2 separate regions of the Homo sapiens genome follow, and region 2 is linked to region 1. The links come from fine-mapping of genetic effects on gene expression. A gene starts in region 1. The other region holds a variant in brackets. All regions are shown on one strand. Distances are between the middles of the regions. Region 1 holds the start of TTC39A (tetratricopeptide repeat domain 39A). Region 2 overlaps RNF11 (ring finger protein 11).

What was found. PIP is the estimated chance that this variant, and not a neighbour inherited with it, causes the effect. A credible set is the group of variants that fine-mapping cannot tell apart.
Region 2: its variant is the best candidate, but not a certain one, in a credible set for the expression of TTC39A in lung (TOPMed, PIP 0.86).

What each region holds. Positions count from the first base shown.
Region 1 is chr1:51,328,124-51,333,501 of GRCh38, forward strand. TTC39A (tetratricopeptide repeat domain 39A) reads right to left here and starts at 2,439. Exons shown (of 18, transcript NM_001297663.2): 1 at 2,314-2,439. The coding sequence starts at 2,354. TTC39A-AS1 (TTC39A antisense RNA 1) reads left to right here and starts at 1,531. Exons shown (of 3, transcript NR_123731.1): 1 at 1,531-1,686; 2 at 2,007-2,090; 3 at 2,749-3,158. RefSeq lists a silencer at 2,412-2,481 and an enhancer at 3,299-3,348.
Region 2 is chr1:51,272,394-51,277,752 of GRCh38, forward strand. RNF11 (ring finger protein 11) reads left to right here. Exons shown (of 3, transcript NM_014372.5): 3 at 1-1,054. Among named protein-coding and RNA genes, the nearest start is that of RNF11, 39 kb to the left of the region's middle. The variant G/A (reference allele first, on the strand shown) is at 1,957.

The DNA.
Region 1 (5,378 bases):
GATCGCTTGAACCCAGTAGTTTGAGACCAGTCTGGGCAACAAAGTGAGATCCTGTCTCTATTTTATTTTATTTTATTTTATTTAAGATCGAGTGCACATATCCAACAACCCAGCAATTCCACTACTAAGGGGGCACCCTCGTGAAACACATGTGCAAACACCATCATACAAGAATATTCACTGTCTGAATAGCAAGACACTGGGAACACTTCGACATCCATCAAGAAGGATAAACAAATGGAGGTGTCTACATAGGGTGGTATATCACACATCAGGGCAAGTGGGACAAGAGCTACAGGATCAAGGCTAAATCTGAGACCTGAAGTTGAGTGTGAAAACGCGAGCTGCAGCATGACACATGCTATAGGACTCCATTCACAGAAAACTTTGAAGAACAAACTACATATTTTTAAGACTTACACACACTGAGTAAAAGAATAAAAACAGAGAAATGATAAAACCTAAATTCAGGATGGCAAGTAATTCTGGAGAGGGAAGGAGGGAAGAGGTTTCCACAAGACTTTCAAGGGTCTCTACTATGGTTTATTTCTTAAAAAGAATATAAAATAAATGGGGCACAATGTTAATATCTGACAAAGTTGGGTGGCAAGGGTTTGTGAGTTCATTTTACTATTTGCTATATTTTTCTGAAGGCTTAAAATATTTCATAATTTTTAAAAAGGTAGAGATTTAAGGCTTGATTTGTTCACCAATGACCATCTGGGCCCAGAGCAGGCCTTGCTGAGTGTCTGTTGAGTGAGTGTCTCTGTAGTGAAGGTGAGAATGGTCCTGCTGCGTGCGGCCCTCCTCTGCTCAGACCCCACCAGGATGACACTAGCCAGGGTTGGGGACAGATGGACAGGTGGCTTCAAAGAAGAGTGGGCAGGCATGCAGAGAGGCAGGTACGGTTCTGCATAAGGAAGACCCACCAGCGTGAGAAGAGCAAGCTTGCTGTCCTGAGGCCTGCAGCAGGGCCAGAGGTGCCCGGGGTTGTAGAGGGCACTTAGGCAGGGATGTAAGCATATAAGGAAGTGGGATGAATGTGGTTTTCAGCCAGGGAGTCTAGACTTCTTTGATAGATACCTTGCTCCATGCCCGCCTTCTCTCCTGGAAACCACTTTTCTGGACCCAGCAGGGTGGTGGTGCTCAGTCAGGGCTGCACAGAAGGAACCTACCCAACCTCCAGCTTTACAAATACTTGAGCCCAGAACAGGAAAGGAACAGCCAGCCCCACTTCTGTGTTTTCCAAAGGAGGGACCAGAAGTCTAGGAAGGGTTAAGGACTTGGCCAAAGTCACACAACAAAAATGATGAAGCTGAAACTCACCAGGCAACCCTCTCCCAGGCCAGGGTGTCCCCCAGCAACCCAGCTTCCAAGCCCTGATAGAGCCACACACACGCAAGCCCTGTGGAGACTTCCAGCTGCCAGCTGGCACCAGCCTCGTCACCTCCCTGTTCATGTGTCAAGCCTCGGGCCCTTAGCAAATATTGTCACTGGTGGTGAGGCTCCAGGCAGGGTGAGCCCTCCTCCCAGCTCACCTGGGCCGGCTCTCTGCCCAGCAACCTCCCAGCAGTCAGGGCTCCTAGCAGCTGCCCCCTGCCCTGCCCACTGGGGCCCAGGAAAAGCAGAGAGTTGCTGAAGGTCTCCCGGCAGTAGCGGCTGTCACTGCTACGGGGGGTGATCTAGGTAGGGGTCCTATAGGGGTTTCTCAGTGGGATGTGGGTAGGGTTGGGCAGGAGAGCCACGTTGAAGGTGACAACACCCACTTTTTACTACCCAGGTTCCTGCTGCACCCAATGGGCCCGGCTGGCCCATACCTTAGCTGTTTAAGTTCCCCTAATGTCCCTGAAGATGATGGGGTGGGGGGATCTGACAACAGACAGAACTGAGTTCAAATCCCACCCGCAACTCTTACCTCCTGGGTGACCGATGACAAGTCACTTAAGTGCTGTGTCTCAGTTTCCTCATCTGTAATGGGGATGAGAGTAACAGGGCCCACCCCACAGGAGTGAACGCCACGAGGCAGGTGGGGAAGGCTGCTCTGAACGTGTCTGTGACTACAGCTCCGTGAGAAAGTTGGGACCCAGAAGGTGAGTGACCGACCCGGGGTCCCCGCGCCTCCGCCTCCTCACAGCCCCCTGCCCCCACTCCTGGCAGCGGCGGCGGCTGCCAGGGGCCGGGCGGGGTGGGGGCTGGAAGCCGCAGTGCGGCCCCAGGCCGGTGCGCGGGGGGAGGCCTGGCGCGGCGCCCGCCACCTGCCCGGGCCCCAGCCCGCGCCGCCCGCGCCCCCGGGCCTCCCAGCCGCGCACTTACCCCGCGGGCAGGGCTCCTGGGGCGCCGCCAGCCGAGGTCATCGCCGAGGGGCGCGGGCGGCGCTGCCCCAGCCGGACGCCAATCGCGGCCCAGGTGCTGCCGCCGCAACCCCGAGCCGGGCGCTGTGCGGTCGCGGACGCGGCGGCCGGGGAGGGGCGCGCCGGGGGCGGGGAAGGCGGCGGGGCCGGGCCGAGCCTCGGTCTCCCCACCCGCACCGTAGGGCCATGGCCGCCCGCGGCGACCCGCGCTCCCGCACCGCCGGGGGTTCTGGGCGGCCCCCACCCCCGCTCCGACAGGTGAGAGCCCGGCGCCCTCTGCGCAGACACCGCCCGGGCCGGGAGCTCGCTCCCTCCTCACACGTCCCCACCTATTTGGCGCTAGAAGTTCTTCTCCGGGACCTGAGGTCCACTTTACTGTCACTTCTCCTCCCCACAGCTTCCGCCCCGAAGCGGCCCCCACCTGAGCCGTCACCATCCTCCCGCATTAATGGGGGCATTCGTGCAGACAAAGACAGCCCCCAGAGTCAGGCCTGGATTTTAATCCCACCATCTCGCCCACTGAGTGACTGCAGGAGACCAGAAGGCGGGGAAAACACGGTTTAGCACTCACTGCTAGCTGGCAGTTCACACTGCCTTCTCAAATGATCCCCATAATTGCTATTTTACAGATGGGGAAACTGAGGCATGGGGTTCATTTGATTCACGCATGGTCACTCACCTAATAAGTGGCAAGCTAGGACTGGAATCCATCCCTCCTGAATCCAAAGCCAACACTCTGGCCCCTTTCCCCCTTGGCCCCCTCTCCCCTGCATTCCCAGTGCCTGTGTGGGGGTCACCCACAACGCTCCCCAAATGTCCACTGTGCACCGAGCCCTGAGGCGGTGTCTCCACCTGACCTGATCTTCTGGCACAGAAAGCCACTGGCCCATGAAGAGTTAACCAGTCACCATCTCCTGGCCCCAGATGCTGCTCTTAACCATGACTCATCAGAGCATGTGGCTGCCATTAGAGCTGTCCCTTCACAAAGGAGGGGACAGAAGTAAGGAAGGACTGTAGCTCCCCTGGAGCAACTATGACCTCCAGGACGTCAGAAGAGGAAGCAGAAGGGGACAGCCTGCAGAAGCAACCACGGTGGGAACAGGACTTGTACCAGATCCCAGGGGAGCCAGGCAGTTTGGGCTTGGTGGTAGCTGCTTAAAATCTAAGCAGGCTGCCTGGAAAGGCAGTGAAGTCCCATCCTGCCCATTTGTGAGCAGGGGCAGATGCTCACTTGCAAGAATCATCCCATCTCTAGGAGTCTCATATACAGGCACGAAAAAGATAATTAACTACTAGAAGTAAGCTATGATGACATCCACCAGCAACTATAAAGAATCCAGACAAGGGGAGAGACTGGGGAGCTTCCTGGAAGAGGTGGTGACAGAACTGAGCCTTGAAGTTTATATTATTTAAACAAACTGAAGTCATGGAGAGGGTGTACCAGATCGGGGAGCAGCATGGATGAAGGCATGGAAGTGGGAAAGGGTGAGGCTGGTGAGACCACAAGCAATACATGTAAAGAGGATGATGAGGCTGGGGCCCCTATCACATGTCATGCACTTTCAAATCTCTAGGCATTTAAACATGCTGTTCCCTCTGTGTGGAACACACCTTCCTCCCTTGTCACTTGTTAGTCATTCATGTAACCGGGGGTGGATCCAGAAGCTTACAATGGGGAGGCCGCTGTTCAAAAAAAGAATACAAATTTACCAATACAGGTTGAGCATTCCTAATTTGAAAATCCGAAATCCAGAATGCTCCAAAATTTGAAGCTTTTTTTATTTTCTCTTTTTTTTGAGACAAAGTCTCACTCTGTTACCCAGGCTGGAGTGCAGTGGCACAATCTCGTGATCTTGGCTCACCACAACCTCCGTCTCCTGGGTTCAAGTGATTCTCATCCCACAGCCTCCCGAGTAGCTGAGATTACAGGCATGTGCCACCATGCCCAGCTGATTTTTGTATTTTTAGTAGAGACAGGGTTTTGCCATGTTGGCCAGGCTGGTCTCAAACTCTGGACCTCAAGTGATCCGCCTACCTTGGCCTCCCACAGTGGGATTACAGGCGTAAGCCACCGCGCCCGGCCTGAAACTTGAAGCTTTTTGAGCACTGTAGTTGGAGACTGCAGGCCTGCCATGTTTGCTGTGCTGTTGTTACAGCGGACACAGGCATTCTACTGATGCTCACGTGCTGCTGAGTTACCCTGAACACTATTTTTTCACTGCATTAATGGTATGTTATATTTTTATTGTTAAGTACTTATGTGTGAATAAGGGTAAAAAAATGCTTATTGGGAGCACATAAATTCAGAGTCAAAAATGATGATGATGCCAAATAATCACAGATTGTCCACATGGATGGCTGAGAGAGTGACACTTCTTTCTGATGGTTCAGTGTACACAAACTTTGTTTCATGCACAAAATTATTAAAAATATTGTGTATAAAATTACCTTTAGGTGGCTGGGCATGGTGGCTCATGCCTGTAATCCCAGCACTTTGGGAGGCTGAGACAGGCAGATCACCTGAGGTCAAGAGTTCGAGACCAGCCTGACCAACATGGAGAAACCCCATCTCTACTAAAAATACAAAATTAGATAGGCATGGTGGCGCACGCCTGTAATCTCAGCTACTCGGGAGGCTGAGGCAGGAGAATCGCTTGAACCCGGAAGGCGAAGGTTGCAGTGAGCTGAGATCACATCATTGCACTCCAGCCTGGGTTAACAAGAGCAAAACTCCATCGCCCCCACCAAAAAAAAAAAAAAAAAAAAAATGACCATTAGGCTATGTGTATAAGTTGTATATGAAACACAAATGAATTTCATGTTTAGGCTTGGACCCCATCCCCAAGATAATTCATTATGCATATGCAAATATTCCAAAATCCATGAAAATCCAAAAATTGAAACACTTCTGGTCCAGAGCATTTTGGGTTAGGGATAGTCAGCCTGTATAAAATTGCCAGGGTTCTCCCAGAGCCTTGGCAGGGGCCAGGTAAGTGAAGAATCCTGAAGCTATAAGCTGTATTAGCT
Region 2 (5,359 bases), 56 kb before region 1:
TTGGAAAGGTATCTATTACATCCTGCTAGCTGACTGACAAAACTAAGCAGGGAGAATAAAGATAATTGTATTTTATGTTTTGCACACAAACGCAGAATTTGTATAACCATATGACTTCATAGTTGTGATCTCAAAAAAGAAGGAATTTCTCCTTTGTTTCTTGCAGTTAATGTAAGAATACTTTAAATCTCTAAGCTTCTGAAGTGTTAGAGGTAGAGATGGTCTAGTAAAGATGTAGTAGTAATGTTTTATCCATTTAGCATGTGTTTATTTTTTCATATGTACTCAAAGGTGACTTATTGGTTCACCTCAGTGATATTACAGCTAAAAAAATCATTCATTAGCAAAAGGAAAAGTGGTCTCAACCTAACATCAGAAGTGTTTCTTATTATTATTTTATATTGAGTTGAATATTGAACTCTAACAGTTTTCTACATACAAAACACAGTGTCATGAAGGTTATTCATAATTGCATTATAGAGGAATGTAGTATGTCATAAGTACTTTGTAAAGATTTGACATTCAACTGTAGTATCCATATGTTGCTTAAATTTCCTTATGAGCCCCATGATGGAAAGACTTAAAGATGAATTTGAGAAAAATTGAAAGAAATTAGATTATCAGGTTCTGTTAAATTGTTACATGTATCTTGCTTAAATTTCTGTTTATTAATTTATATCCACCCAAGTACATAAAGCAAATTTGGAGGAAACAACTGAAGTTGTGCAATATTTTCTGATAATTGCTTTTTTTATTCTTGTGTTTTCTACTTAAACATAATGTCTGTGTCATCAAGTATTATAGTCAGACTTTTCTTTTTTTCTAGATTGTTAAAATTGGCAAATGAACTTTTTTAAAAATCATCTTCCATGTTGCAGTTAGTCTTTCTTTTCATTACAAGTCTTTCACAGAAGTTTGGTGGTAATATTGAAAGAACTAGCATTGGGCAGAATGTGTCTTTTTTAGGCACTTTATATTCTCAACATACAATGTTAAGAACCATCAATTTTGACTTTTACTAAGTTGTTAAATAAAGTTATAATACAGCTGTGAAGGGCTAAAGTTAGAGTTGATTACATAAGTAAGTATTCCCCATATAATCTTTTAAAAAGTTGTGTATGATTATTTTAAAATCTCTCTCTCTATATATACCTGTGGGAAGTATTTTTTATTGTTTGGCATTTAATATCATTTAATCATATACTTAGGCTTGATAGCACCAAAGTTTCTAAAACCAAACAATAGCTATAATCTCTTGATTTAGATATGGGCAAGATATGTCCAAGCTTGGCTGTGGGATTTGAAATTTCTAAAAAGCCTAACCAGGAAGAAACAAAAGAATCTTATCCTTTTGAGTGTAAAACCTAACAAGTTGAAATACTTTCAGATATTTGTAGTTTACCTAACACAAACTTAAAAAATTCTGTGAGTTTCTTGATAGGGAATCTCCTCAGTCGGTACTAGAAGACTCGCCCCCTGCTATTGGTGTTTATCATGTGATATAAAACAGTATGATTTCATGCAATAGTAAGCATTGAGATAACAGATCCCCTGCATACAAATCTTCATAAAGAAGCATTCATTTTTAAAAAGGAGCAACACTTAATAAAGTACAGTAATCCCCCTTATCCACGGTTTCTGCCATTTCACATACCCACACACTATGGTGCAAAAAGGTATTTTGAGAGTGAGATACCACAGTTACATAATTTTTTTTTTTTTGAGATGGAGTTTCGCTCTTGTTGCCCAGGCTGGAGTGCAATGGCGCAATCTCGGCTCACTGCAACCTCTGTCTCCTGGGTTCAAGCAATTATCCCGCCTCAGCCTCCCGAGTAGCTGGGATTACAGGCGTGTGCCACCATGCCCGGCTAATTTTGTATTTTTAGTAGAGACGGGGTTTCTCCGTGTTGGTCAGGCTGGTCTTGAACTCCTGACCTCACGTGATCCACCTGTCTC[G/A]GCCTCCCAAAGTGCTGGGATTATAGGCGTGGGCCACTGCGCCTGGCCTCACGTGACTTTTATTACAATCTATAACAACTTTTGTAAATACAGTTTTTAAAAAACACTTAATCTTGGCCGGGCCTGGTGGCTCACACCTGTAATCCCAGCACTTCGGGAGGCCAAGGCAGTTGGATCACTTGAGGTCAGGAGTTTGAGACCAGCCTGGCCAACATGGTGAACCCCGTCTCTACTAAAAATACAAAATTAGCCAGGCATGGTGGTGCACACTTGTAATCCCAACTACTTGGGAGCCTGAGGCAGGAGAGTCACTTGAACCTGCAAGGCGGAGGTTGCAGTGAGCCGAGATCGCACCACCGCACTCCAGCCTGGATAACAGAGTGAGACTCCTCTGCCTCAAAAAAAAAAAAAGAAAAAGACAAAAACTTACTGTTTTACCAGTGTTGTTCCTAATCTCTTACTGTGCCTGATTTACAAATTAAACTTTAGCATAGGTATGTATGTGTAGGTACGTATGTTGTACTATCCACAGTTTGAGATATGCAGTGGGGTTCTTGGAGAGTATACCCCATGGATAGAGTGGGTGATACTGTAGTCAAAAGGAGAACTACCTAAGGTCTTGAGACTGGAGAAGTGGTAAACGAGAGAAAGTATGTTTCTTCAGCATAAGTCACAAAAATAGTTGGTGGCTATCTGTGCTTACAAAAGCAGTGGGTAGCAGTCATGGAGTCAACTGATGAAACTTGCGTGTAAATGCATCTTAGTGTAATAACCTCACCTAATTTTTTAAGCCTTAATTTTAAAATTTGTGGACACAAGAAAAGTTGGATTTTAGGTTAATATCTCTTCAAGTAATGTTAAATTTACCTATCTGAATTTAAATAAACACTTCTATGTTTTTTAATTTTTATTATATTTCTATTTTTAAAATATTTTTTCTTTTAAATATCAACTGCTCTTTTACTGGGCGGGAAGAGATAGAAGACGATTTGACCCGTCCTTCTGTACTTTTTTTTTTGAGACGGACTTTCTCTATCTCCCAGGCTGTAGTGCAGTGGTGTGATCATGGCTCACTCGACTCACTCATTTTGTCTCTTTAAGCCACATTTTCCTCACCATGGGAGTGTTGGTAGATCAGTAGTTCTCTGAGGCCAGGACAACCAGAGCACAATTACCTAGGGCTCTGGATGTTTATTAGTAATGGAGACCCCTATCATATCAGAGTGAGAGAGGAGAAACAGAACTTTTTGAGACAGAGTCTCACTCTATCTCCCAGGCTGGAGGGCAGTGGCACAACTGCTTCCACCTCCCAGGCTCAAGCGACCTTCCCAAGGAGCTGAGACTACAGGTACATGCTACCACACCTGGCTAATTTTTGTATTTTTTTGTAGAGATGAGTTTTTGGCATGTTGCCCAGGCTGGTCTCGAACTCCTGGGCTCCAATGATCCTCCCACCTCAGCCTCCCAAAGTACTGGGGTTACAGGTATGGGTCACTATACCTGGCCATCTATCATTTGTAACAGGTTCTCCAAGTGATTCTGATGCACTAGTAGGTTTTGGAACCATTGGTAGATGATCCCTTCCCAAACTTGTGAAGTACAGGTTTGGTTCTTTTTTTGTTTCCTGAGAAATTAGAAGCAGTATTGGGCACTTGTTGGTTATTCAGAGATTGATTGTCCAGGCACAATTATCTAGACTTTCTGCTCTTCATTTGTCCTTTTGCTATTTCCTTGCTCTTTAGCATAGATACAGAGCATCCAGATAAGTAAGTCCCTTTACAACCTATTTCCTGATTTTACAAGCTTCTTCCATCAGAGGCACCAGTGAATTATAAAAAGGGTTTGAGATTTATTTGCACATTTTAATTGTCCACATTGTTTGCTTTATCACACTGAGCACTTAGGCACAAGCTTTTGTTTTGGAGACAGGGTCTCACTGTGTCCCCCAAGCTGTAGTGCAGTGGTTTGATCATGGCTCACCGTAAGTTCAGACTCCTGCGCTCAAGTGATTTTTCCCACATCAGCCTCTCGAGTAGCTGGGATTGACTGCAGGTGCGCTCAACCACGTCCAGCTAATGTTTTGTTTTTTTGTAGAGACTGAGTCTCACTATGTTGCCCAGGCTGGCCTGAAACTCCTGGCCTCAAGAGCTTCTCCTGCCTCAGCCTCCCAACGTGCTGGGATTATAGGCCTGAGTCACTGCTCCCAGCCTGGCACTGCCTTAGGACAGTAGCTGGATGCATCTGATTAATGTTATTAACTGACTAAAGCCATTTATTGTTTCTTCACATACAGTTTTTTAATAAAAGTATGGTCGAGATTACCTTTTCATTACATTTCTGTTTCTTGAGAAAAATTACTGTTCACTGGCACATTTAGTCATCTTCAGGTGCTTCCCATAGAAAGTTTGTTTTTCTCTTTGAATGAAGGAGTGTTAGCAATAGGCACATGTTTTAGGCATCTAAAACTGATGGTGATGAAAGGAGCAGCGCCTATTTGCTTTGAACCCTTCCTCTAATATTTGTGCTTGTGGGCTCCACATCTCTTAGCACTGAGAAAAAGAAGTTGTTGAGGAAGATACTAAGGGGTCTCCCTAAGTGTCTTGTCATGGCAGTGTGTACTCTGAATGCCTGTGAGAAGATTTGGTTGGCTATGCAAAAAAAGTTCAACTTCTCACTGGAGGCCACCACAGTAGCTAATCTGGTCAGTTAGTACCCAAAAGCAAGTTTTAAGCATTGTGTGTGAATTGAGAAGCCTGGACTACTATACTATCAGAAAGACACTGAGATTGGCTTCCAGCATTATCCAAATGAGGTGCAGGAATAGGCTACATTCTGCCAACCCCAGAATTAGAGCCAGGCCTTCAGCTTTGAAACAATGCAGAATGATGATCCTCTATGCAAAAGCTTAGCTGAACTGGGTAAACACATTATAAAAGTTAACAGCTACAACTTCACAGTGTGCAAAGTGTGGGAAGAGAAGAGGTTTGGTCTTCGTGCTGCTTGCTTACACTCATCACTATCTGTAGTGTTACCCTGACACGAGGAAGAATAATTCATAGGCATTCTTTTTTTTTTTTTTTTTTTTTGAGACAGAGTTTAGCTCTTGTTGCCCAGGCTGGAGTGCAATGGCATGATCTCGACTCACCGCAACCTCCGCCTCCCAGGTTCAAGCAATTCTCCTGCCTCAGCCTCCCGAGTAGCTGGGATTACAGGCATGCACCACCATGCCTGGCTAATTTTCTATTTTAGTAGAGACGGGGTTTCTCCATGTTGAGGCTGGTCTCGAACTCCTGACCTCCAGGTGATCCGCCTGCCTCGGCCTCCCAAAGTGCTGGGATTACAGGCGTGAGCAACCGCGCCCGGCCGGCATTCTTATTTCTGGTTGTGAGACAGGTGCTGTTCT